7 linked regions of the Homo sapiens genome follow. The protein of the gene in region 4 interacts with the protein of the main gene of each other region in a biochemical or structural test. Each region holds a gene or a part of one and is shown on either strand. Other genes may lie near its edges.

Region 1 (3,500 bases), on a different chromosome or scaffold from region 4:
GGAGACTGCACACAGAGTCCCTACTGGGGTACTGCCTAGTGGAGCTGTGAGAAGAGGGTCACCATCCTCCAGACCCCAGAATGGTAGATCCACTGACAGCTTGCACTGTGCACCTGGAAAAGCTGCAGACACTCAATGCCAGCCTGTGAATGCAGCCAGGAGGGGGGATATATGCTGCAAAGCCATAGGAGTGGAACTGCCTAAGACCATGGGAACCCACCTCTTGCATCAGCATGACCTGGATGTGAGACACGGAGTCAAAGGATATCATTTTGGAGCTTTGAGATTTGACTGTCCCAGTGGATTTTGGAGTTGCATGGGGCCTGTAGCCTCTTTGTTTTGGTCAATGTTTCCCATTTGGAACAGCTGTGTCAATGCCTGTACCCCGAGTGTATCTAGGAAGTAACTAACTTGCTTTTGATTTTACAGACTCATAGGCAGAAGGGACTTGCCTTGTCTCAGATGAAACTTTTGACTGTGCACTTTCGAGTTAATTAGTTAAGACTTTTCGGGACTGTTGGGAAGGCATGATTGGTTTTGAAATGTGAGGACATGAGATTTGGGAGGGGCAAGGGGCAGAATAATATGGTTTGGTTGTGTTCTCACCCAAATCTCATCTTGAATTCCCAAGTGTTGTGCGAGGGACCCTGTGGGAAGTAACTGAATCCTGGGGGCAGGTCTCTCCCATGCCGTTCTTGTGATAGTGAATAAGTCTCATGAGATCTGATGGCTATTATAAGAGGGAGTTTTCCTACACAAGCTCTCTTTGCTTGCTGCCATCTGTATAAGACATGACTTGCTCCTCCTTGCCTTCTGTCATGATTGTGAGGCTTCCCCAGCCACGTGGAACTGTAAGTCCAATTAAACTTCTTTCTTTTGTAAATTGCTCAGTCTTGGCTATTTCTTTATCAGCAGTGTGAAAATGAACTAACACACTATGTGTATTTACAAAATAATCAAATTTATAGATAATTTCTTAAAGACACATTTGGTACATAAAGGTTTGCCTGTTCCCATAGGAAAGACTGACAGTTGGTTAAGGGAAGATTACCACGGATGCAGTTAAGGAAACAGTTGCTGCTATTTCATAGTAGGTGGTCCACTCTGATGTCATTGTAGCAGGGTTGAAATAAAACATTTCAACCACGTATTTTCTGAACACGCCTAAATAAGGTCTGGTCCAGCTCAGAACCACGGCCGTAGGACCCAAAGGATAGAGCATTAAATCCTTTATTCCTGTGGGAACTAGAAAGAAGAGGGCAGGGGGTAGAAAAAGAAAGTTAAGAAGGAATGTCTTAGCAATGGCCTCAAACTTCTACTTAATGACCCGAGTTTTCACTCTCTGATACAATACCTACCTCCCTCCCTCCCTTCCTTCCTTCCTTCCTTCCTTCCTCCCTTTCTTGCTTCCTCCCCTTCCTTCCTCCCTCCCCCTGCCCTCCCCCTTCCTTCTTCCCTCCCTCCCTCCTTTCATCTTTTCTTTTCTTTTTCTTTCTTTCTTTCTTTTCTTTCTTTCCTTTCTCTCTCTTTTTCTTTTTCTCTCTCTTTCTCACTCTCTTCTTTCTCACTCTCTTTCTCACTTTTTCTCCTTTCTCTCTTTCTTTCTTTCTCTCTCTCTCTCTTTCGTTCGTTCTTTCTTTCTTCTTTTCTTTCTTTTCTTTTTTTTTTTTTGAGACAGGGTCTTGCTATGTTACCAAGGCTAGATTAAAACTTCTGGGCTTGGCTGGGTGTGGTGGCTCATGCCTGTAATCCCAGCACTTTGGGAAGCCAAGGTGGGCAGATCACGAGGTCAGATCGAGACCATCCTGGCTAACACGGTGAAACCCCGTCTCTACTAAAAATACAAAAAATTAGCCAGGCATGGTGGCATGTACCTGTAGTCCCAGCTGCTCAGGAGGCTGAGGCAGGAGAATTGCTTGAACCTGGGAGGCAGAAGTTGCAGGGAACTGAGATTGCACCACTGCATTCCAACCTGGGTGACAGAGCGAGACTCTGTCTCCAAAAAAAAAAAAAAACAAAACAAAAAAAAAACCAGACAAACAAAACAAAAAAAACAAACAACTTCTGGGCTCAAGCAGTCCTCCCACCTCAGCCTCCCAAGTAGCTGGAACTGTAGGTGTGTGCCACGGCACACAGCTTTACTCTTGTTGTATAATCATTGAAAACTAAAGTAAGAATGTTTGCCTCTGATTTTTTCCCCAAGTAATAAATATTAAGAATGTTTTCCAAGTATACAATTCTTGTTATTTATTACTCTGAAGGTAGCATATTGGATGAACTAATATGGACCTTCCAAATACGATGATAATGATTTGAGCTCGCACATTGCACCCCTCCGTCAATACCCTAATATATAGGTCAGTCATTCTTCTTGTGGCTAGCAACTTACCAATAGCAAATGTCACAGGATCTGAAGGTGGTCCAATCAAAGGGCCTTTCCTTAGGTATATTACAACCTGGTACTGGGCACCAGGAACCAGATTTTCAATAATAGGTTTGCTTGAGTTCACCTTTAAACCAAACACCCAATAAGATTTATTTAGAGCTGGGATTTCAGAATGTTACACAGAGGCTGGTATAATATTCAGAGACTCTTTTTGGAATCACAGATGACTTTGAAATCCAGAAGGCTTTACTGAAGCTGTCAGATTCCAAAATTAGGATGATTTATAGTTTATGTGAACATTGAAGGGAACCTAGAAGATTCAAATTTTGTCTGTTCTAAGCCCTGTGAACTGCTTTATACCCATCAGTGTCAATTATAACTATGCACACTAGAGACACATCAGCCTCTAACCATAATCAAATCAGCAATACCATGAGGATAGTTTGACATTCTAAATTGTGGTGTCAGCTGATTACATACAAAGGTCAGTACGGAAATGTCTTTAGTCTCTTGTCACTTAGAAGCATATAATATCTAATTATAGAAATGAAAATGACCACCGGGAACAGTGGCTCACGCGTGTAATCCCAGCACTTTGGGAGGCCAAGGCAGGCAGATCATTTGAAGTCAGGAGTTCAAGACCAGCCTGACGAACATAGTGAAACCCTGTCTCTACTAAAATACAAAGAAAATTAGCCAGGCATGGTGGCAGGTGCCTGTAATCTCAGCTACTCAGGAGGCTGAGGTAGGAGAATTGCTTGAACCCAGGAGGCAGAGGTGCAGTGAGCCGAGTTTGTGCCACTGCACTCCAGCCTGGGCAACAGAGTGAGACAAGCTCTCAAAAAAACAAAAATAAAAAATAAATAAAATAAATAAATAAATAAATGGAAATGACCTTAGAGATTACCTAGTCCAAAGTGCTCATTTAATAAATAAAGTAAAGCCAGAGAATGGCCAAGGTCATATATTTAGATGCAGTGTTGGGACTGGAAGCCTAGTGTTGGGACCTTTAATCTACACTATGGGCAAGTCACTGTGCTAAGCATCGAGATATCCTGGTAAGCACCCTGCCAGGCTGTTGTAGCCCCCTAAAATAATATTGTAGAGAACATTT
Region 2 (2,770 bases), on a different chromosome or scaffold from region 4:
ACAGAATGGTAGGCCAAAGCTGCCAAGTTTGGGACTTGTATACCTGTTTGGAAATGTCAAAAGTTCTTGTTAAGTAGAAGCAATTGTACTGATCTTACACATATAGATTCTCCAGAACTCTTGCCAGGATATATCCTTCATCCTACCTCGTAAATATTAAGAGAGTTGTTACAAACCTAGTTGATACACTAGAGAAAATAGTAATTCTGTTCACAACTTAGCAGCAGAGTCATAAACTGAATAAAGTTTGATTCCTTAGATGAGCAGGTAAAACTGTCATTGTTTACTCTTTAAAGGAGAAAGAACGTTGATAAATCAACCCAGCAAAGACCATTCTTTTTGGTTTGCTGCCTGTGTAAAGACGACTACCAATGTTCATTTTACTACCATGAAAACTTAGACCAGAGGGTTGGTGGGTATTAATGTGATCTGTTAAGGGAGACTAGTAACCTATTTTATTGGATATAGACATTTTCATAGAAATGCTCAACACTACTGAATACATCAAAAACCATACTTTATTTTATGTATAGCAATACAATTTACATATTAAATAACACTATAATAGAATGATTTGATATAGTTTAAACAGAAGAAAAAGGGAAAAATTTCAGGTTACAAAACCCCTCCCCCTGAACAAATTTAAAAAAAAAAAAAAAGCACACTTTTTCCAAATGGGTCAATGTGACGAATGTTTTCAGTGACTAATTATGTCTAATTCCTATTGCACAAATGGTCAATGGAATTAAAAAGAAAACCCAACTTTCACAATCACTGCCTCAAAGAAATAACACATGTTGGATTCTTTTGGAATGTAAAGATGGTTTTTGCTACTTCAATACACAGAAAGTTGAATTCACATATCCACCACAAAAAGGAAAAAAAACTATGACGGAGTTGAAACTAGAAAAAAATTAGCTTTATATGAAAATATAAAATTCTATGATTATATACCATAGATACAAAGTTCCCAGAAGATGCTTACCCAAGCAACAAAATATTTACAGTTTTAATGATTTTTAGCTATTTCAAAATGGAGTGAAAGAAACATGAGTCAATGTGAAGCCAGAATTCTTTAGAAACAATGGCTGCTTGCTAGTTTCAAATGTCCTAACAAAAAAGGAGTCACTACCCCAAATGTTGGAGAGTTGCGACATTTTATAAAATCGACTTTCTCCTTTTCTGGAGATGTTTATTTCTTAAAACTCAAGATATTTTTCTTGAAATTAATTATCCTCTGTAGAAAATGCTTCCCTTTGCAAATATTTAACAAAAATACTAAAAACAGTTTAACAGCTAAGACAAAGTAGAGGCCAAATATCATTATTACAATTCCTTCCTATTTGTAGCATGCCTTCTTCTTTCTAGAGATAAGTAAAGCCAGTATTGTATGTTAAATGACAACTAAGGGAAAGCGCAAAGGGTTAAGTGAAATTACATCTGTTAAAAAAAAAAAAAAAGCAGGCATTTTCCCTTCATATAAAAATTCACTGGCACCATTTGAACATAAACTTTAGAACATAGGAGTTGAAAATGCATTTCCAGTATAACCACTAAATTCTTAAGACAAACTACATTTTGATTCTTAAATTATGATGAGTTGGGTTTTTTTTTTAGTTTTGCTTAGAATTAGTAATATGTATCTTTGGTAAATTGGTATCTATATTTTAATTTTAAATACAGTATATATGCATTTAAGAAAAATTCATAACAAGGCAGTTGTGCTGTGTCATTATAAAATAATTATTTACTGATTTCAGTATGTCACTCTGGGCTAAAAACTCCAACAACCAGAACTTGAACACCGTAACCCTTCTTTGGCCTCGCTGGACTCTTCTACTTGAATAGACTAAAAACTCTAAAGGCATAAAAATTAGGAAGACCAATTAGCTAATCTTACTCTTTTTGAAATTCAGAAATTAACTTTTTTCATATTAAAGAAGATATCTTGGCTATCGCATATAAGAAAGAGTTCTCCTGATGGCAACAGCATGTCTTTTCTTTGATGTCCAGCACAGCCACTTGGTCTGATCATTGCAATTTATTTTTATATGATGTGTGCATTTTGCTTACCTAGAGCTAAATTCATATACACAAACAGCTTATTTTATTAAGTTGCACACATTAATTTGCAATAGCTATTTCCTTTCCCCTGAGTGCAAGTGTTAATAACCTTGTTATGTACTTAAGCAATGTGCTTATGTCTCAAAGAAAACCCTGTCTTTGAAACTCTGCCTCTGGAAAGATGCAAGCTATGTTTTTGCCAATAACACATGAATAATAATAGTGAGGATATGCTGTCTCTTGCAGGGGTGAGGACCTGCTAAATATAACTGTCCTCATTGAAGTGTGTTTGGACTACTTTGGCAAGATGGGCAAGTAGCAATTGCTTATAATTCAGTGGGTCAGGATATGAAGACTTTGGTTCAAGCTCGCTGAAGACACACAGATTGCTCACAGGGAACTTCTAAACTCTTTCTTTTATTGTTTCTATCCTATTTACTAGCTGTTTTTTCGTGATTCTGAAACCACTGTAAGGGACAGCCACAGAATTGCATTGGAGGGTATGCCTTTCTACGAATTGAGCCCTCTATAAATAGCACAGGAGGGAATACTTGCTATTTGTCTTTGAACCAGTGTTTACTTTTATTAAGAAAAAATTACTGAGAAAGGGACCATGAACCCTAACTCGAACATTACTTTTGAACATCAAGCCCACTTTGCCATCTACTAAAAAGTGTTAACTCATATCAATACTCTATACATCTAA
Region 3 (3,500 bases), on a different chromosome or scaffold from region 4:
AAATAAATGCAATGTAGGAAATTTAAGTTTGTTGGTAAAGGTGAGACATATTATCATCTACTCCTAGAACTCCTTAGCTTTATGGAGAGCTCAGCGTTTGAATTCAAGCAGAGATAAATGAGTGAGGCAGAGAAGAGGAGAGTTGAGGAAGTCAGTGGAATTATTGCAGACTTAAGATAAGGAAACAAATTAAGTGAAGACATATGCACTGCGCATGAAAGAAGAAACCCAGAGAGAATTTTCGGGAAAGAGAATGGGGCTTTGAAACCAATCAGAACTGGCTTACATCCCACCTCCGCCACTACACAGTGATGCGATTTGGGGGGAGATTTATTTTTAACTAATCTGAGCTTGATTTCTTCGTGAATAAAAAGGGAAATTGCCAAAATCTGCCTCATAGGATTGAGTGAAGGATTCAGGATGCATTGCATTTTAGGGCCTGCCTTAGTAAGTGGAAGCTAATATTATTTTCATGGAGAGCGGGGTCACCAGACCATAACTCAAGACCAGTGTTAGCCAATAACTTTCTAAAATTTGCAAACTAGTAAACTTGATAATTTCTTACTCTCTAAAAATGAACTCCACTTGGTGAGAACAGAAGATGAAATTCAAAAGACCAAATATTTGCTGATAGCTCAACTTAAGAATGAGTCAAGTTGAACAAAATGTACAAAAGCGTAAAATAGGAAACGAATCCACAAAGGGGAGGGACCCAGGCAGGCCTTACGGGACTTAGTCAAGAGAGGACGGGCCCTTTTGTAAACTGTCATTCTTTGGTGCTGCATGACCATTTCTTTTTAAATGCTGAGAACATTCTCAGTCACTCCCACTTATAACTGTCTAATAAAACTAGTCGTTTGTCACTTCCAGTGCCCTGCCCAGCCCTACAGAAAATACGTGATTATTTAAGGGTGAAGAAGCCAAAGCTGGGAGAGTTTTAGTCACCTATCTAGGGGAAAGTGTGAAGATTTCAAAGCCCAGGGTCCTTCACGGAGCCACACGGCTCTCCTTGGCACTTAATCTTCAAGCTCTCCTCAGCCCACACTTGACCCTTAACAGGGGAGACAAAGGCAGACTCCAGGTAAGTTGTCAGGGTTAGCATAAGCAGCTCAGGGCAACTGGTGGGTAGGGAGCTGTACAGCCCAGGGATTGCAGCCTCTTGTTTTGCATTTCCTGGAGTCATGGCTAAACTCATGGTCTCCTCAGGGGTCAAAGCAGGCCTGACTTTCAGTGTCATCTTCAGGACACACACACGCACGCGCGCACACACACACACACACACACACACACACACACACACACACAGGATTATACATGCAACTAACCAATCACACAGAGCTGGACCATCTAGCCTGGTAGAAGGTCTGCCGAGTTCTGCGGGTCACCATGAACCAGGCTTGTGAGCCCTCTTAGTCATATGTAAAGGGCTGTGTTTGAGACCCGGTAGCCCACAAAGCTCTTTTCTGCCCAAGCCTTGGTTTTTCCGTATGTTAGTGGGGACAGATTGGAACTAAACAGACCTTGAGTCTTTTCAGGGTCAGTCTCAACTCTCTTAGATGCTAGAGGGATATAGGCAGGGCTAGCACAGAACAGAAGCAAGAAATAGTCAAAATGAATATTTTGGACTGCATAGACTCAGAATGTGCTTTACTTGGGCACCCAGGGCTTCTCAGACTTCAGTTGTTTTCATTCCACCATTCCCTTCCTCCCCCTCCTCATCACCAGCAGCAGCAGCAGCAGCAGCAGCAGCAGCAGCAGCAGCAGCAGCAGGGCGCACAGCTCTGGGGGGAATCAGGCACTGGGCTGTGGTGGTACCGAGGTTACCCCTGAAGTCCTCACGCCTCCCTGTGAGGTTGATAGATTGAAACTACCTTATTTTGAGTATGAGGAAATAGAGGCACAGTGAGGTCCAGAGACCGCCCAAGAGCACACACCTAGGAAGCTGAGTGCCAGGTTTCAAAACCAGGTCTCCCTGGGCAGGGCAGGGCATGGCTGTGTTTGAACCACTCAGGTCTCCTTTGACATAGTTGACAGCACTAGTTACTTGATAATGTCTTTTTAAAAATTAATTTACTTAAAAAAACTTGAGTGCTATTCTAAGCAATGTGACATCGTGGATTTCTTGGGCTAGTTATATATTTTATGATGTTCATCAATGTACAATTATGTAAAAGTTGAATGATCAAGTTCTGCCTAAGACCATCTCATGTACCAGCAGCGAGGTTAGATTCAAATAGAAAAAAGGGATCTGGTCCAAGATTTGACACGGATTCACTGTCTGTGGGACCCCTTGCTAGGGCACTTGATCATCTGGGTCATTAAATCTGGGGGCCAGGCACATTCTCATTCATTCGAGACGAGCCCATCCTCTTCCAGAGCATGGGGGCTTCTTGAAACCCTGTCCTTTCCAGGCACACACTGAGGTGGGGAGAGGGACCCTGGAGTCAGACCACCTGGCTTTGAATCCCAGCTGTCTCCTCTGAGCTGTATGGCCTAAGGCAAGTCATTTAAGCTTCTTGTACCTCAGATTCTCCAACTGCAAAACGGAGATGATAATAGGCAGAAGCCTCGTGGGGCTGTGAGAATCGAGTCTGCATATGTAAAGCACTGGGCACTGTGTCTGGAGGCTGTGAGCACCAAGCGGCTCTAATCATTCCCGTTTTACAAAGGAGGACAGAGAGACTAAGGAGATAAACTCTTTCTCATCTCTCGTTGTGTGTCAGTGCAGGGGCAGGACTAAAAGCTGGTCTGTGGTCTGCAAGCTTTAGGGGTTACAGAGTCCCCAGGAACTCCTAGGAAATTCAGCTGGCGGCTACCTTCCACCATCCCCAGGTTCTGATTCGTGGGCCTGGGGTGGGACCCAGGAATCTGCATTTCAGTTACTTCCCAGGGGATTCTGATGCAGGTGGTGCGAAGACCACTTACTGAGAAGCTGCAAGCTGGGTTTGAGAGGTCCCTACCTCCTTCTTCCTTCCCCGAGCCCCACCCGCCCCCTTCTTTCCACTGGGCAACTATGTAAACAGCATTATTTCTACCCTTGCACGGACAGAAAGGGGTCTGTGCTGCTGCCTCTGTTGGTGCCTCTTCAGGTCAGGGTGATAAGAAGAGAAGGAACAAAGAGGGGAAAAAGATCACAGCAGAGAGACAGAGTGCTCATTTTAAGGTGGAAATATGCCATTTCCTGACCACAGCGGGACTTCCCTAGGTTGTATTAAAAAATCCTGTACTGCCCATGTCTGGTACAGAAGTATGTATAGAATTGTAGAGAAAATGAACACTTTGGGATGATTTGAAAGCAAATTACAGAACTACCAGTTTCACCACTTTAAAACTTTTGGGGAATGGCCATTTAGATATAACCTGGTGCAGTCAGGTAACCCCAAACAGAGTTTTTAAAAGTTTCCACACCCTTCTTTGCTGGTGCCTGCCCTGCATCATGCTGTCGCTGTGAGGAGGGACTTGTTCCAGATCTCTGGGGCAGCCCGAGTGACTCACCTAAA
Region 4 (3,500 bases):
TATATGTAGCTTTTTAAGACCACATAATGTTGGCATCAATTTCTCCTTAACCTGGGCTTAGATCATTAATATTAGTTCTAATTAAGTCCTAGTTGTGAGGAAAAGAGACTGAGGCTCAGACTATCTTAAGAAAAAAGATTTGGTTTTGTTTGTAAGTAAGGATAACCTCCTCGTTTCAACAGGAGGTTAACCTCCTTCAACAAGGAGGTTATCAGGAACTGAAGCAATTCTAGGGGACTGTTGCTGTGTCCTGCTCTCTCTGTGCATTTCTGTTTTATGGGAAATCTTTGCATCTGGTTTGTTCTCTTTCACATTCTTCCCTTCTTTTCTGTTTTCTTTTCTGATTCTTTTTTGTTTTCTTACTCTGTATCCTCTACTTAAATGGATTCTGCTTTCCAAGAGCTTTGGCCTCCAATGCTCCCCTTCTATGGCCTCAGTTCTGCCTCCTAGCTGCTTTTTATGTGCCCTTGCAGCTTCTGCATCAGCTTCTCATTGCCTTACTTATTATTTACTCACTTTAGATTGCTTAGAGATGATGTGATTGGTCTATGTGTGTCACACCCACGACGACCCAGTCTGCCCTGGCAGCAGGGCTGTGATTGCGGTGTGGATCTCAGAAAGGATGTGAGCATCAGAGGCTTTCTATCGGATAATGCTTCCTTTTGTTTCCTTTTTCTTTGTCTCTAAATCTATTTTAGACAACTACTAGTCATTTTCTTTGCATATAATATGCAAAAATATGTTTGGACATGTATAGCTTTATAATTGGTTCATACAGATCACTGAAGGATTGAGATATAAGTGTCATGAACTCTTTGAAATATTGAAATATCTTTTTTAATGTTAAACTGGTGCTTTCCTTATTTTCCAGTAACGAGTGCATGTTAGTGGCAGATCTCTACTTTTTAACTCCAAACCTAACAGTTTTATATTTTGAGGTCTCGCATAAATGTGGAGGGAGTAAGATTTGGGTGAGGTTACAAAGCTTTTAAGTCCTACCTCCCTTGCTCCTCTGCTGCTCTTTTCTCCCCTTGAGCTCTGTAGAGCACAGTTTGAAAACTCCAGTATATTTCAACAGTTGTGATTCCATGTGGTAAGCATAATATGAAATCAGGAAACACCACTGTTTATAAGTTAGAAAAGACCTAAGATCAATTAATGATTAGCTTTTAGTATCCTCTAGGTCTGATATCACTCATGTATCCCACATTATTATGATATATATTTTATGTATATATCAGAATATATACTATGTATCATGTATACTACATATTTTATAATTATACATCCCTATGTATTTAGTGAAAGTACTATTATTCTAGTACACTAGAGACTAATCACACTAGTTCTTTAACGTAAAAGAACTTAATAGAACAGAATAAAGTAGGTTCTTATTTCTGGAGATTGTGTTCATTCTTTTAAAATTTAACTGAACTGTTCAGAGACAATTGTGAGTTCGTTGGCCACATTATTTATTTGGCATATTTGCTTAGATACAAAATGAACTTAAAAAGAGCACCCAGATTGAAATACCCATATAGTTTTTGCCAGAATCAAGAATAGACTTAGCAAAACAGTAAAGAGGTTCCTGAAGTCATAGTATTCAAAAAAAATTTACTTTTCTTTAGTACTATTTTACTTTTTTTTTTTTTTTTTTTTGAGACAGAGTCTCGCTCTGTTGCCCAGGCTGGAGTGCAGTGGCGCGATCTCGGCTCACTGCAAGCTCCGCCTCTGGGGTTCACGCCATTCTCCTGCCTCAGCTTCCCGAGTAGCTGGGACTACAGGCACCTGCCACCACGCCCAGCTAATTTTTTGTATTTTTAGTAGAGACGGGGTTTCACCGTGTTAGCCAGGATGGTCTCGACCTCCTGACCTCGGGATCTACCTGCCTCGGCCTTCCAAAGTGCTGGGATTACAGGCGTGAGCCACTGTGCCCGGCCTGTACTATTCTACTTTTTAAATAGTTATGATACAGGAGAGGAGGCTTGAGAATGTATTTAACATTACAAGGCAGACTTTGTAAACTCACTTTACAAAGTTATGACTTCATAAACTCACTTTACAAAGTTATAACTTCAAGAAAAACACATTTTAAAATCCAAATTCAGATCTCAAAGCAAAGTTTATCCACAAACACTTAAACAAAAATAATGTCTCGTTTGGTCCTATAATTTTTCTCAGTATTCATAGCATCAGATGAATCTATTTTAATTTCAAATTTCATGACATCAGATAAATGACTTAATCTATTATTCAGTATCTCTTATATAAAACTCATTATAAGCAAATCTAATTCTATAAAATATGGCTTGATTAGTTTCAGAGCTCCATATAACTAGTTCATTGCCCTATATGTCTGGTTTTTGAGATTGTCTTTGGAAGGATCTATAAGAAACCAGTAACATTCTAGTCTTGTTTATAGCCCCAATTATAGATGTCAGCTGCTGTAGTTTGCATACAGATGAGCTTTTCAAATACTTATGAGTAATTGAAACTGCAGAAATACATAGATGTTCTGAACACTTAAACATAATTATCTTAGACCCTTTGCCTGTCACTCAATTCATGATAGTGATATTTTCATCATACTATTTCTGTCACTGTAGTGTTTGTTTTGAGCCAAGTTTTGTGTGTATTAAGAGAAACGTATTTTAAGCATACTGTATTAAATATTGGGAAAGCAGATGAGTCACTGGAAATACAGGACAAATTATATTTTGACCTCTTCAATTGAAAATTTTATATTTCTGATGGAAAGGGAGTTTTGTAAAGTTTGGGAAATTTATCTGTTATAGCTTCTCTTTATGTCATGACATAAATCTAGTATATTAAATCGCTAAACTTATCTAAGGCCCCCATCTCTGTCTAGTCTCTGTCTAGCATGATGCAGCAGCTGTGTGAGCCCCACATGCTGTCTTTATGTTGTTATGTTTGGCCTTGTCCATTCACGCCTTTCTGCAACAGTCTGAACATTAGTTACTATACTGACTTTTTTTTGTTAAGCCAGTGCAAGGTTTTGTATGGTGTTTTTATACACCACTTTGGTTAAAGTACCTTCAAGCTTAGATCCTTAATATTGTGTGGGGAGCATACAGAAGACTAATCCTGAGAGTTTCCCTGGGTGACTCTTTTGGCACAGTGATGGATTTGCTCTAAACATTTTTTCAAGAGATCTTTTAAAGTTTCTGAATGTGATTAAAAATTAACATGCACTTTTTAAAATTTTTATTCTTTTGTATTTCAATTTTTATTTTAGTTTTAGGGGGGTGCATGTGCAGGTTTGTTACCTGTGTATATTGTGCGATGCTGAGATTTAGGGTATGAATGATCCTGTCACTCAGGAACTGAACATAGCACCCAATCGTTAGTTTTTCAACCCTTTCCACCTGCCTCCTTCCCCTCTCTGGTAGTACCCAGTGTCTGTTGTTGCCATCTTTATGTCCATGTTTAGCTCTCACTTGTAAGTGAGAACATGTGATATTTGGTTTTCTGTTCCTGCG
Region 5 (3,500 bases), on a different chromosome or scaffold from region 4:
TAAGGATCATGCTTCTGTGACTTTGTGGAGCACATGCAGATTGAGGGCCTGCTGTGTGCCAGGTGCTGTGTGAGGGCTCGGCACACAGATCAGCTAGGCAGGCTCTGGGAGCCCACGGGCAGCCAAAGAGTGGCTTTCTCTCCCTGGCTGGGAGAGAGGTGGTGCCGAGAGCCGTGGGGACCTGGGTGTAGCCATGATGAGTGCCTGGAAGGGTCTGGGAAGAGTTTTCAGAGAGTGACCTAGGGTGGCAAGAGACGGGAGGGGAGAGTGGACTCTGATCTTGGGTGTCATTTGCATGGCTGTGGGTGAGACTCCCTCTGATGTTCTCTTCTCCCAAGTTGGGTTACCAGTTGCCCAAGACTAAAGACACTCACTGAAACTATTGGCTTCCCGACTTGCAGAGGGTTGTATGTGCAGTGGGTAAGGGCAGGTTGGGGCCAGACTGCCTGGGTTCCTTGGCTGACTGTGCCCCTTGCCAGCTGTGACCTGGGCAAGGTACTTACATCCCCCGAATCCTACTTTTCCTGTATAATTGTTTGCTCTTTTTATCACTAGGAATAGCCCTATGGAGTTGGCTTTTCTCTGCCTGATGGGCTGAAGTGCTGGATAGAGCCAGCTCTGGGTGTCCTGTGAGCCTATGGGCCCTGTCTAGGTCACCCAGAGCCAGCTTGTGAGTCTGGAGACTTTGGTGCTAGTGTTCACTGCCACTAATTATCCATGTGTCCTGGCGCACGGCTCCACCTCTCTGGGCTGAGGAGATAGGTTAGATCAGGGGTCAGCACACTGTGGCAGCTGGTCAGATCCTGTCCACTGACTATTTTGGTAAAGAAAGTTTGATTGCAACCCAACCATGCCCATTCACTGTCCTGTTGTCTATGTAAGCTGTCACACCACAACAGCAGAGTTGTGTAGTTGCAACAGTGACAGCCTTACCCACCAGCCTAAGATATTTACTATTAAGTCTTTACAAAAAAGTGTACTGGGCCTGGTCAGGGGATATCTGCATTGTCTTCTAGTTCCAGCAGAGCCTCGTGCTTGGGTGGCACAGAATCCATGCCTTTGGTATGAATTTGGCCTGGGCCTTCTGCGAGGAGGTGGGTGGCCTGGGCTGGTTGAGGGAGGATTTCGAGGAGGCCTTGCTGGCACTGCCTACATGGATTCCAGCTTTGGGTGCCGAGGTGCCTGGTTCTACATCACCTTGTGCCTGCTACCTAGAATAGACCTCCCGTGCCTGCCTCTTTGCAGACAAACTGCCCCAGCCTTGTCCACTGTCTTGCTGTTGGGTGGAGGGGGTTCTGTATGGGGACAAAAGACAGACGGGCAGGCTGTGGCTGGAGCTGTGTGCAGACTCCATTGCAGCCTCTGGGTCCTGCTCTGTAAAGGGTCCTGTGCTGAGGGACCATCCTCTTCCGGGGTCTAGAGAGGCCTCTGGCCTGGGTGTAGGATGTCAGACCTGAGGGCCACCCCAGAAGCCACTCCACGGAGGCCATGCCCCTATGCAGCAAAGGCTGGAAGCACCCTGCTAGCACCCTGGTGACTAGGCTCCTTCCAAATTAAGGTTTTCTTTGGGCTAAGGGGAGGAAGGTTGCATTTCAGCTAGCTGGACCCCAGGCCTGTCACCCATGAGGGACCTGGAGGAGGGACCTGGAGGACCTGACTATTTTGGTAAAGAAAGTTTGATGGCAACCCAGCCATGCCCATACACTGTCCTATTGTCTATGTAAGCTCTCACACCACAACAGCAGAGTTGTATAGTTGCAACAGTGACAGCCTGACCCAACAGCCTAAGATATTTACTATTAAGTCTTTACAAAAAAGTGTACTGGCCCTGGTTAGGGGATCTCTGCATTGTCTTCTGGAGGAGACCTGGAGGAGGGGGCTCTTCTCCAACTCTGACCATTGCAGTCTTGGCCAGCAGGGGCTGCAGGGGCCTGGCCTCCTGAGGGATGCACAGACTCTGGTTCTTCAGTTTCTCAGGCTGATTTCAGTGGATGCCTTAGTTGTGGGCAGTATGGCTCTGTACTCAGGCCAGGTTCCTCCTGGGTAAGACAGGGACAGGGTGGGATTTGGAGGTGGTAGGAATGACATTCCTCCCGGATCATGGCCCGGGGTAAACAAGAGCGTTCTGTTGCTTCTTCCTCTTTCAAGCGGAGTTCGTTTGGGAGCTGGCCTCAGAGGCCGTAGAGGAGTTGGGCAGGTGCCGGTCTGGGAGTCGGGCCATCTGGGGACCTAGTCATTTCCCTTGTCGGGCCTCAGCATCCATCCTTATCTGTAAAATGGCCTTTTCTAGCGTGTGTCCCCCACCCCCTCTTAGGCTGTTTTGAACACCAGGTAGTGCCGTGTATAATGAGGTCCTCTGTAAACTAAACTGCTCAGTGCTACAGGAATGCCAGAGGTGGGCGATGGAATGTTGAGTTCCGCCTGGGAATGGGGTTCCCTGATGCCAGTCTCTAGAGGAATGCTGAGTGTGTCAGGCAGAGAGGGGTGGGTGTGTCTTGGCATCAAAGGGGCTGGTGAGTCTACAGCAGCCCCACAGGGCAAGACTCACCAGTGCAGGCCTGTTGCTAGGTGGCCAAGGCTGTTTCTGGATTCTGGGCAGGGGGTGGAGCTCACATGAACTCTGGCACTATCCTGGGATACAGGCAAGGCAGGGATGGACCTCTGGGCCCACTGTAGGGCCCCAGACTCTAGTGGCACGAGGAGAACCTGGAAGGGCCTGGGTGCTGAGCAAGATCATTGAAGAAAGAGAGCAGCCAAAGGGGGTGCCAGCTATGGACAGCCTCCTAGTCCTTGGAGGGAAGAGTCTCTGATGGCCATGTTCTGAGGCGGGGCCTGGGATCCATTTCAGGGCCCCCTCCTCTGAGCAAGGCCCTGGTGAAAGGTCACTGCAGGGCAGGGTGGGTCTGGGCAGGCAGGAGCCCTGCCTGTCCTTTGGGGGCTATTCCTATGTTCCCAGGCAGGAGTCCAGGAAGCTGTGTTCCAGGGGAGGTTGGGGGGGACCTGCACTGCACCCCTGTGCATCTGTGCTCAGTGTCTCTGTCCTCTTGCCCCTTCCAGAGCCCCGGAGCTATGTGGAGTCTGTGGCACGGACAGCGGTGGCTGGACCCCGAGCTCAGGACTCTGAGCCCAAGAGCTTTAGTGCTCCAGCCACCCAGGCCTATGGCCATGAGATACCCCTGAGGAACGGGACCCTGGGTGGCTCCTTTGTCTCCCCCAGCCCCCTCTCCACCAGCAGCCCCATCCTCAGTGCTGACAGGTAAGCCGGGAAGGGGCAGTGGGTGGGGGATGGGAATCCGGGCCTGGGACTGGGACGGGATGGGTGAGGCCTCCTGGATCTGTTGCCTATGGCGTGGACAGGCAGAAAGCATACCCAGATGGCGGTACCTTGCAAACCAGTTCATCAAGGTGCATTGAGGGCACATGTCCTGCGCGCTGAATCCTGTGGGGAGCCCAGTGACCTATAATTCCCAGGCCGCATTCAATTCCGCCCATCCAAAACT
Region 6 (3,500 bases), on a different chromosome or scaffold from region 4:
AAGGATTGTTCCAGCAATCGAGCTGCTGAGGAAGGAGGAGCCAGGGGCTTTTGTCATAAGGGACAGCTCTTCATACCGAGGCTCCTTCGGCCTGGCCCTGAAGGTGCAGGAGGTTCCCGCGTCTGCTCAGAGTCGACCAGGTATGCGTCTGTCTCTGTGCTCACTCAAGGCCTCACTGAGGCAGCGGGGTGTGGTAGGTTCCAGTCCTGGCTCTGGCACTAGCTTTCAGGGTGACATGGCGCCAGTCTTATAACAGCTCCTAGGAGAAGCGTCCACCCCAGTGTTCTCCCCGATGCCCTCCAGCCCCAAGGCACCCTGAAAAACGCCTTTCACAGCAAGCCTGCGTGCTTCTGCCTTCCCGAGCCCCACCCCCACTTCCCTGCTTTTTTCTGATGGTGGGAGAGAAGGAGGAGGGTCCTAGCCCCCTCTAGGCTGCTCTTCTTGGAGTCAAACTGGATTCATTTCCAGGGAACCTAATGTGTGATTACACACGCAGCTAGCTTATCTCACAGGTGATAGCTTACCAGGTTTGTGTACTAGCTCAGCGCACATGTGTGTGATAGCTTATATGCTTTCCTGTGGTCTCCCATGCTTATTTGATAGCAAACATCTATGGAGCATCACCACACACCAGGCACTGTGTGAGGCAGCAGGGATACAGTGGAATCAGACACAGACACCACCTCACTAGGGAGACAGATGAAAACAGATGATTACAGTACAAGGTACCTGGGTCATAGGCCTCACTCAAACCCCAGGATTGCACCTTCTTATTTAACGGATGAGATAACGGAGGCTCCCAGAGTTACTTAATGACTCCAGAGCAATTAAGTGATAAAGGGAGGATGAAACACCCAGCCTTGTGTTCTTGACAGTATGCCTCACTGTCACAATAAGAAAGTGACCTCTGGGGAGGGTGTTACTTATAAAGGACGCCTTGCAAGAGGCAATGAGCCCAGACTGAGGAGGACACTGTGGACTGGTGGAAAGGAGTCAGAAGGTCATTGTTCACCTCCCCACCCCCGGGGCCAGCGTGGCTCCAGCAGAGATGACCTGGTGGGCAGGGGGAGACAGAAACCAGACCAAAGAGTCGACATTTATCTAAATAATTAAGAAGTTTCCTTGCCAGGCACAGTGGCTCACGCCAGTAATCCCAGCACTTTGGGAGGCCGAGGCAGGAGGATCACTTGAGCCCAGGAATCTGAGACCAGCTTGAGCAATATGGCAAAACCCTGTCGCTACAAAAATTACCCAGGTGTGGTGGAGCACACCTGTAGTCCCAGGTACTTGGGAGCCTGAGGCAGCAGAATCACTTGAACCCAGGAGGTCTTTGAGGCTGCAGTGAGCCATGATCACACCACTGCACTCCTTCCTAGACCAAAGAATGAGACCCTGTCTAAAAAAAATAAAATAAAATAATCCCTAGGCCGAAGCAGGAGAACTGCTTGAGCTCAGGAGTTCGAGACCAGCCTGAGCAAAATAGTGAGACCTTGTCTCTACAAAAGAATTAGCCCGACATGGTGGGGCACGCCTGTAGTCCCAGCTACTCAGGAAGCTGAGGTGGGAGGATTCCTTAAGCCCAGGAGGTTGAGGCTGCAGTAAGCCGAGATCATGCCGCTGCACTCCAGTCTAAGAGACAGAGCAAGACTCTGTCTAAAAAAAAAAAAAAATCCCTGATAACTCTTGACCAGCAGAAAGGTTTCCCCACCCCACCCCCAAAAAAAGAAGAAGAGAAAGGTTTCCTGAAGAGGGTGTGGCTGGAGCCATTGAGCAGATGTGTTGGCACCTCCTCTGTGGGAGGGAGAGGCAGGGGGATGGACAAGGTGGAATTTTTTTTTTTTCCGGTGAGACAGAGTCTCACTGTGTCACCCAGGCTGGAGTGCAGTAGCACAATCTCGGCTCACTGCAACCTCTGCCTCCCAGGTTCAAGCAATTCTCCTGCCTCAGCCTCCCGGGTAGCTGGGACTACAGGCATGTGAACCACGCCCGGCTTTGTGTGTGTGACTGTGTGTGTGTGTGTGTGTGTGTGTGTGTGTGTCTTTAGTAGAGATAGGGTTTTACCATGTGGGTCAGGCTGATCTCGAACTCCTGACCTCAAGTGATCTGCCCACCTCGGCCTCCCAAAGTGCTGGGATTACAGGCGTGAGCCACCGCGCCCGGCCACAAGGTGGAATTCTATCCGAATGCACTCTTTCTTCTCTGTCCAGGTGAGGACAGCAATGACCTCATCCGACACTTCCTCATCGAGTCGTCTGCCAAAGGAGTGCATCTCAAAGGAGCAGATGAGGAGCCCTACTTTGGTGAGACTCCCCAGCCTCCAGGCTCCCCCGGGATGGGGGGCCAGCGAAGTCTCCGTTGTGAGCTGAGGGGTGGGTTGGGGAAGCTCTACTCATGCAGGGCTGCTTGCTTCCTTTCAGGGAGCCTCTCTGCCTTCGTGTGCCAGCATTCCATCATGGCCCTGGCCCTGCCCTGCAAACTCACCATCCCACAGAGAGGTGGGTCTGGGCCCCAAAGAGGCAATGCCAAGGTGGGGGACCTGTTTGTTCTCATTAGAAATGGGGTTCACTCCTACCTTGTTGGTGGATTATTTTAGTGTCACGGTTAAAACTGTGTGCACTGGAGTCGCTCAACATCTCCACCTCCTAGCTGTGAAAATTTGAGAATGTTGACCTCTCTGAGCCTCAGTTTCCTCATCATACCTACTTATAGGATTGCTGTGCAGACCGAAAGAGATAGCCCGGGCAAGGCTCTTAGCGCAATGCCTGGCATAGAATGGATGTTGGATAAATAGCAGCCTGCTTTGAGAGGGTGAAAGAGCCTAAATCAAATAGTTTGGAGAGGTTTTCTCTTTCCAGGTCCAGCATTTGTTGAGCACTCACTCACCCATTCATGCTTCACTACAAGCTTGTGAAGTAGACTTTGCTGTTATCATCCCCATTTCACAGATAAGAAAATAAGGGCTGGGCGTGGTGACTCACGCCTGTAATCCCAGCACTTCGGGAGGCCAAGGCGGGCAGATCACTTGAGGTCAGGAGTTCGAAACCAGCCTGGCCAACATGGTGAAACCCCGTCTCTACTAAAAATACAAAAATTTAGCTGGGCGTGGTGGTGGGCGCCTGTAATCCCAGCTACTCAGGAGGCTGAGGCAGGAGAATCACTTGAGCCGGGGAGGCAGAGGTTGCAGTGAGCTAAGATCGCACCACTGCACTCTAGCCTGGGTGACAGAGCGACAGAGCAAGACTTCATCTAAGAAAGAAAGAAAGAGAGAAAGAGAGAAAGAAGGAAGGAAAGGAAGGAAAAGAAAACGAGGGTTCTAGATGTTACGTAATTTGCCCAAAGGCCCACAGAGTCAGACCTTGAACCCAGATCAGCATGCCCTATCCAGAGCATACAGCCAGGTAGGGGGGCAGCTCAGATGAAATAGATCATCTCAGGGGTGTGCAGGAGAAGCTCGAGAAGGGCTGTTTCTGGAAGGGCATCAAGGCAAGGGAGCCCCAGAG
Region 7 (3,205 bases), on a different chromosome or scaffold from region 4:
TGGGGGTTGGGGGTTGGGGTTTGGGACACTCTGTACCGGTATTGGGTCCTGGGGTTAGAAGAGGCTTCAGGAAGCACAAGAAATTAGGTCTTTGTCAACACCTTATGTGCCCAGGCCCACCCCTCTTAGGCCTCTCCCCAACTCCTCACAGGCACCCCTCATTCTCTGGCCCCAAGCAGATGGCCGATGCCGCCTCCTCTCTAGGAGAGTGTGAACTCAGATGCTAAAATAAAAGCCCCCCCTTCTCTCCTGGGTTCCCATGGAAACTTATATTTGGTGACGCAGCTGCAAAGTCATGAGGCATGAGCCAGGCTGGGGCCAGCAAGGAAAATTTTGTCCTGGTCTCTTGCCCCTTTGACTGCCTCTCCCACTAGTTGGTTCTGTTTCTGGCTGCAGGCGCAGCCATGCCCTTCTGCCCGGGGGTTTTAGGGTGAAACCTATAAATGAAATCACTGGCGAGGGCCTACAGTGGCCTCTTCCCTAACCTAACTCCGATGTGCCAAAGGTTTCCTGTGTTGGACCCAGGGTGGGGATCTCTTCACGGGGTTTCTCACACCTGAGCCCCCAGCCACCACAGAGGTGCAGCTTGAAGTGCATCCAGCCAACTGGCTGGCCTCCTGGGATGCTCCGCATCCCCATCCTGCCATTCCTCTCCCTGCCTTGGAGTAGCAGCTCAGGAAGCAGCAGGGGCTTTGAGAGAACAGGCTCGCCTGCCCTTCCTCTACGTTTCACTCCACTCTGCTGGAGGAGCCAAAGCCACTGCCCCATCCGAGCCCCAGAATGCAAGTGTGAGGCCTGCAGAGAGTGTGGGCAGGTCTGAAAGCCTGGGACTCTAGTCTCGCTGAGCGGCTCTTCCGAAAATGGGATGACCCTTGAACCTGTAAAGCCACCTCCCCCACCTGCTTATCCACATACCGTCTTGTTGGTTTTTTTTTTATTTCTTTTTTTATTTTGTCTTTTTTTTGTTTGTTTTTTTAGAAATCTGTCTTTCAGGTTTGCCAGAAGGTAGGCGTTGAGCCCGCTGTGTGTGTGTGTGTGTGTGTGTGTCTGTGTCCTGTGTCCTGCCTCCATCACTAACTCCCCTTTTCTGGCTCTTACTCTCCTCCATCTGCTTAACCAAGTCTGTGTGGCCCTCCTCTCTCTGCCATCTTAAAGGGATGAAGACTGCCTCTGATTGGGCATCAGCACAAGGCCTGCCCTCCGTGCCCCCAGTACAAACAGGCAGGGCTAAGAGGCCACATTGGCCCACTCAGGGCAAATGGCTTTAAAAATGAGGGCCTTCCTTGGGCCCACAGTTAACGCCTGTCCTCAAGTAAGGGGAGACTGTCTCAGGGAAGCCTCCCTTTAAGATTGTCTCCTCTCACCCACCCCACCCCACCCCCACTCCCTCTCACCCCAGGTTTTGGTCACAAGTGTTGGGATCCTTTCCTGCCCTTTCCCTTGTCATGTGCATGCGCTATGAGGAAGCTCCAGGGTTACAAGTGCATCTGGGATGGTATCTTGTTTGTTGTCTCCTGGGTTTCCTGAACTTCAGAGCTATGTGACCTCTTCCCCGTGGCCTATGGGATCGCAGGACTTTGGAGACACTACGGGGACCCTGGGGCCCCAAGGTTTCAGTCTGGCTCCCCCAGACCTTAGGAGCTTTTGTCTCACAAATGGAGCACAGCACCCCCTCCTGGCAGCTCCTGCAGAACTAGCCCCACCCACCCGCACCCCTGCCCCAGCACCCCTGCCACCAGCAGCATCTGGATAAATCAAGCCTCTTCTCCTCTAGGCTGTTTTCTCCAGATATGGCCTGTCTCTTCCAAAGTGCGGGGAGCTGGGACATTCTAGGGCAACGGCCATTCTACCCCAAGCCGTAGCAAAACAACAGGAGATCTCTGCACCCTTACTCAGGGGTCTCCCTTCACAGTCCCCTTCCTGGCTCTTTCACCCCTGGCCTTATGCTCATCCTCTCTGCAGGCCTCGGGGACCAAATACCAAGCTGAAGACCAAGGGCCAGGTTAAGAGTGCTTGTTCCCCAAGGCTGTCTGCTCAGGCCCTGCATTGGGACTGGGATGCCTGGCAGGCACATTGGTGCCACAGCTGATGGAGGAACGTCCAGACAGGGTCTTCAGGCTTTCCCTATCCCCTCCTCCTCCCACCCAGCTGTTGACTGCATGACTGGCTGCTGCCTCAAGGGGCCCCAGCAGGGGGCTGCCCCACAGGGGGTCTGGAGAGAGCAGGGAGGGTGCCTTCCTCGCACAGCCGGGCTCCCTGCTCGCAGTGCGCTTGTGTGCACCCCTGTGTTGGTTGTGTCTTCCTGTTTATTTCTATGTGCTGCTGCTCTTCCTCCTTCCTCTCATATCCTTCCTCCTCTGCAATCCCCAGTTTCCTAGCTCCAGACACCCATCTTCCAGCCAGGAGCTGGAGAAGCCGCTCAGCGGGGCCAGACCTCTTCCCCACCCACCCAACCAAGGTGTCTGCCCTGCCCTGCCCCACCCCACCCTCATCCTCCCTGCGTATGAGCAGATGGCCTGGCAGGCCAGCAGGTAGGGGAGTTGGGAAAGGTCGGAGGAGGCCGCCTTTTCCACTCAGCAGCAGGAAGCCATCCCCAGGTGCCTACCATGCAGACCCAGGCCTTGGCACTTTGAGTCTCCTGACAGGCCCTTGCGTAGCCACGGCCCCTCCTCCTACAGAGATTCAAAGCATTGCAGCCCCTTTCCTCCAAAAGGACTGCAGTCCTGAGACCCTAGCGTGTGGCTCCAAAAACGCACTCACACCTGCAACCCCCAGAACAGCGCGTGAGCCCTGGCTGTGGGGGAGCAGCCTCGTGCCGGGCCGTGTGCTCAGTGTGCTCAGTGAAGTGCGTGCACAGCCACTCCCCCTCCTCCCCCAGAGCAGAGGCTCCTTCTCCCCGGCACAGATCTGGGAATGTGGGGAGGGACAAGCCCCATGTGCTGGGCTCCCTGCTGGAAAGGAATGGTTGAGCCGCCAGTGTGAGGTGCTGCAGAGCCCTGTTGGCTTGCCAGGTGATGGGCAGAGGGCCCTGGGCTTGGGTCCTGCCCACCCACTGGTGGCACCTCCCCAGACCCACTCTCATCTGGGTCTGTGGCGGCGGAAGGAGCGAGAGATCCCAGCACTAAACTCTCCCTCGCTCTGTTTTTTGAGGAACCTGAATGAACCTGAAAGCAAAGACCGAGTGGAGACGCTCAGGTGAGAGGGC

Evidence for each region.
Region 1: of the proteins of GAB1 (region 4) and PTPRO, one has a biochemical effect on the other in vitro, tested with the Homo sapiens proteins (one large-scale study listed by IntAct).
Region 2: of the proteins of GAB1 (region 4) and PTPRG, one has a biochemical effect on the other in vitro, tested with the Homo sapiens proteins (one large-scale study listed by IntAct).
Region 3: the proteins of GAB1 (region 4) and SLA form a complex in vitro, tested with the Homo sapiens proteins (one large-scale study listed by BioGRID and IntAct).
Region 5: the proteins of GAB1 (region 4) and TNS1 form a complex in vitro, tested with the Homo sapiens proteins (one large-scale study listed by BioGRID and IntAct).
Region 6: the proteins of GAB1 (region 4) and TNS4 form a complex in vitro, tested with the Homo sapiens proteins (one large-scale study listed by BioGRID and IntAct).
Region 7: the proteins of GAB1 (region 4) and MARK2 form a complex in vitro, tested with the Homo sapiens proteins (one study listed by BioGRID).

What each region holds. Positions count from the first base shown.
Region 1 is NC_000012.12:15,514,508-15,518,007, reverse strand, and holds part of PTPRO (receptor-type tyrosine-protein phosphatase O isoform a precursor), read right to left. Parts: intron 2,511-3,500; coding exon 2,390-2,510; intron 1,246-2,389; coding exon 1,052-1,245; intron 1-1,051.
Region 2 is NC_000003.12:62,295,340-62,298,109, reverse strand, and holds the end of PTPRG (receptor-type tyrosine-protein phosphatase gamma isoform 1 precursor), read right to left. Parts: 3' UTR 501-2,770; downstream 1-500.
Region 3 is NC_000008.11:133,054,103-133,057,602, forward strand, and holds part of SLA (src-like-adapter), read right to left. Parts: exon of another isoform or gene 857-3,500; intron 1-856. UniProt on the Homo sapiens protein: Adapter protein, which negatively regulates T-cell receptor (TCR) signaling. Inhibits T-cell antigen-receptor induced activation of nuclear factor of activated T-cells. Involved in the negative regulation of positive selection and mitosis of T-cells.
Region 4 is NC_000004.12:143,441,376-143,444,875, forward strand, and holds part of GAB1 (GRB2-associated-binding protein 1), read left to right. Parts: intron 1-3,500. UniProt on the Homo sapiens protein: Adapter protein that plays a role in intracellular signaling cascades triggered by activated receptor-type kinases. Plays a role in FGFR1 signaling. Probably involved in signaling by the epidermal growth factor receptor (EGFR) and the insulin receptor (INSR).
Region 5 is NC_000002.12:217,821,496-217,824,995, reverse strand, and holds part of TNS1 (tensin-1), read left to right. Parts: intron 1-3,057; coding exon 3,058-3,256; intron 3,257-3,500.
Region 6 is NC_000017.11:40,481,124-40,484,623, reverse strand, and holds part of TNS4 (tensin-4 precursor), read left to right. Parts: intron 1-14; coding exon 15-140; intron 141-2,207; coding exon 2,208-2,300; intron 2,301-2,417; coding exon 2,418-2,495; coding exon of another isoform or gene 2,496-2,527; intron 2,528-3,500. UniProt on the Homo sapiens protein: Promotes EGF-induced cell migration by displacing tensin TNS3 from the cytoplasmic tail of integrin ITGB1 which results in dissociation of TNS3 from focal adhesions, disassembly of actin stress fibers and initiation of cell migration.
Region 7 is NC_000011.10:63,905,110-63,908,314, forward strand, and holds part of MARK2 (serine/threonine-protein kinase MARK2), read left to right. Parts: intron 1-978; coding exon 979-1,005; intron 1,006-3,150; coding exon 3,151-3,195; intron 3,196-3,205. UniProt on the Homo sapiens protein: Serine/threonine-protein kinase. Involved in cell polarity and microtubule dynamics regulation. Phosphorylates CRTC2/TORC2, DCX, HDAC7, KIF13B, MAP2, MAP4 and RAB11FIP2. Phosphorylates the microtubule-associated protein MAPT/TAU.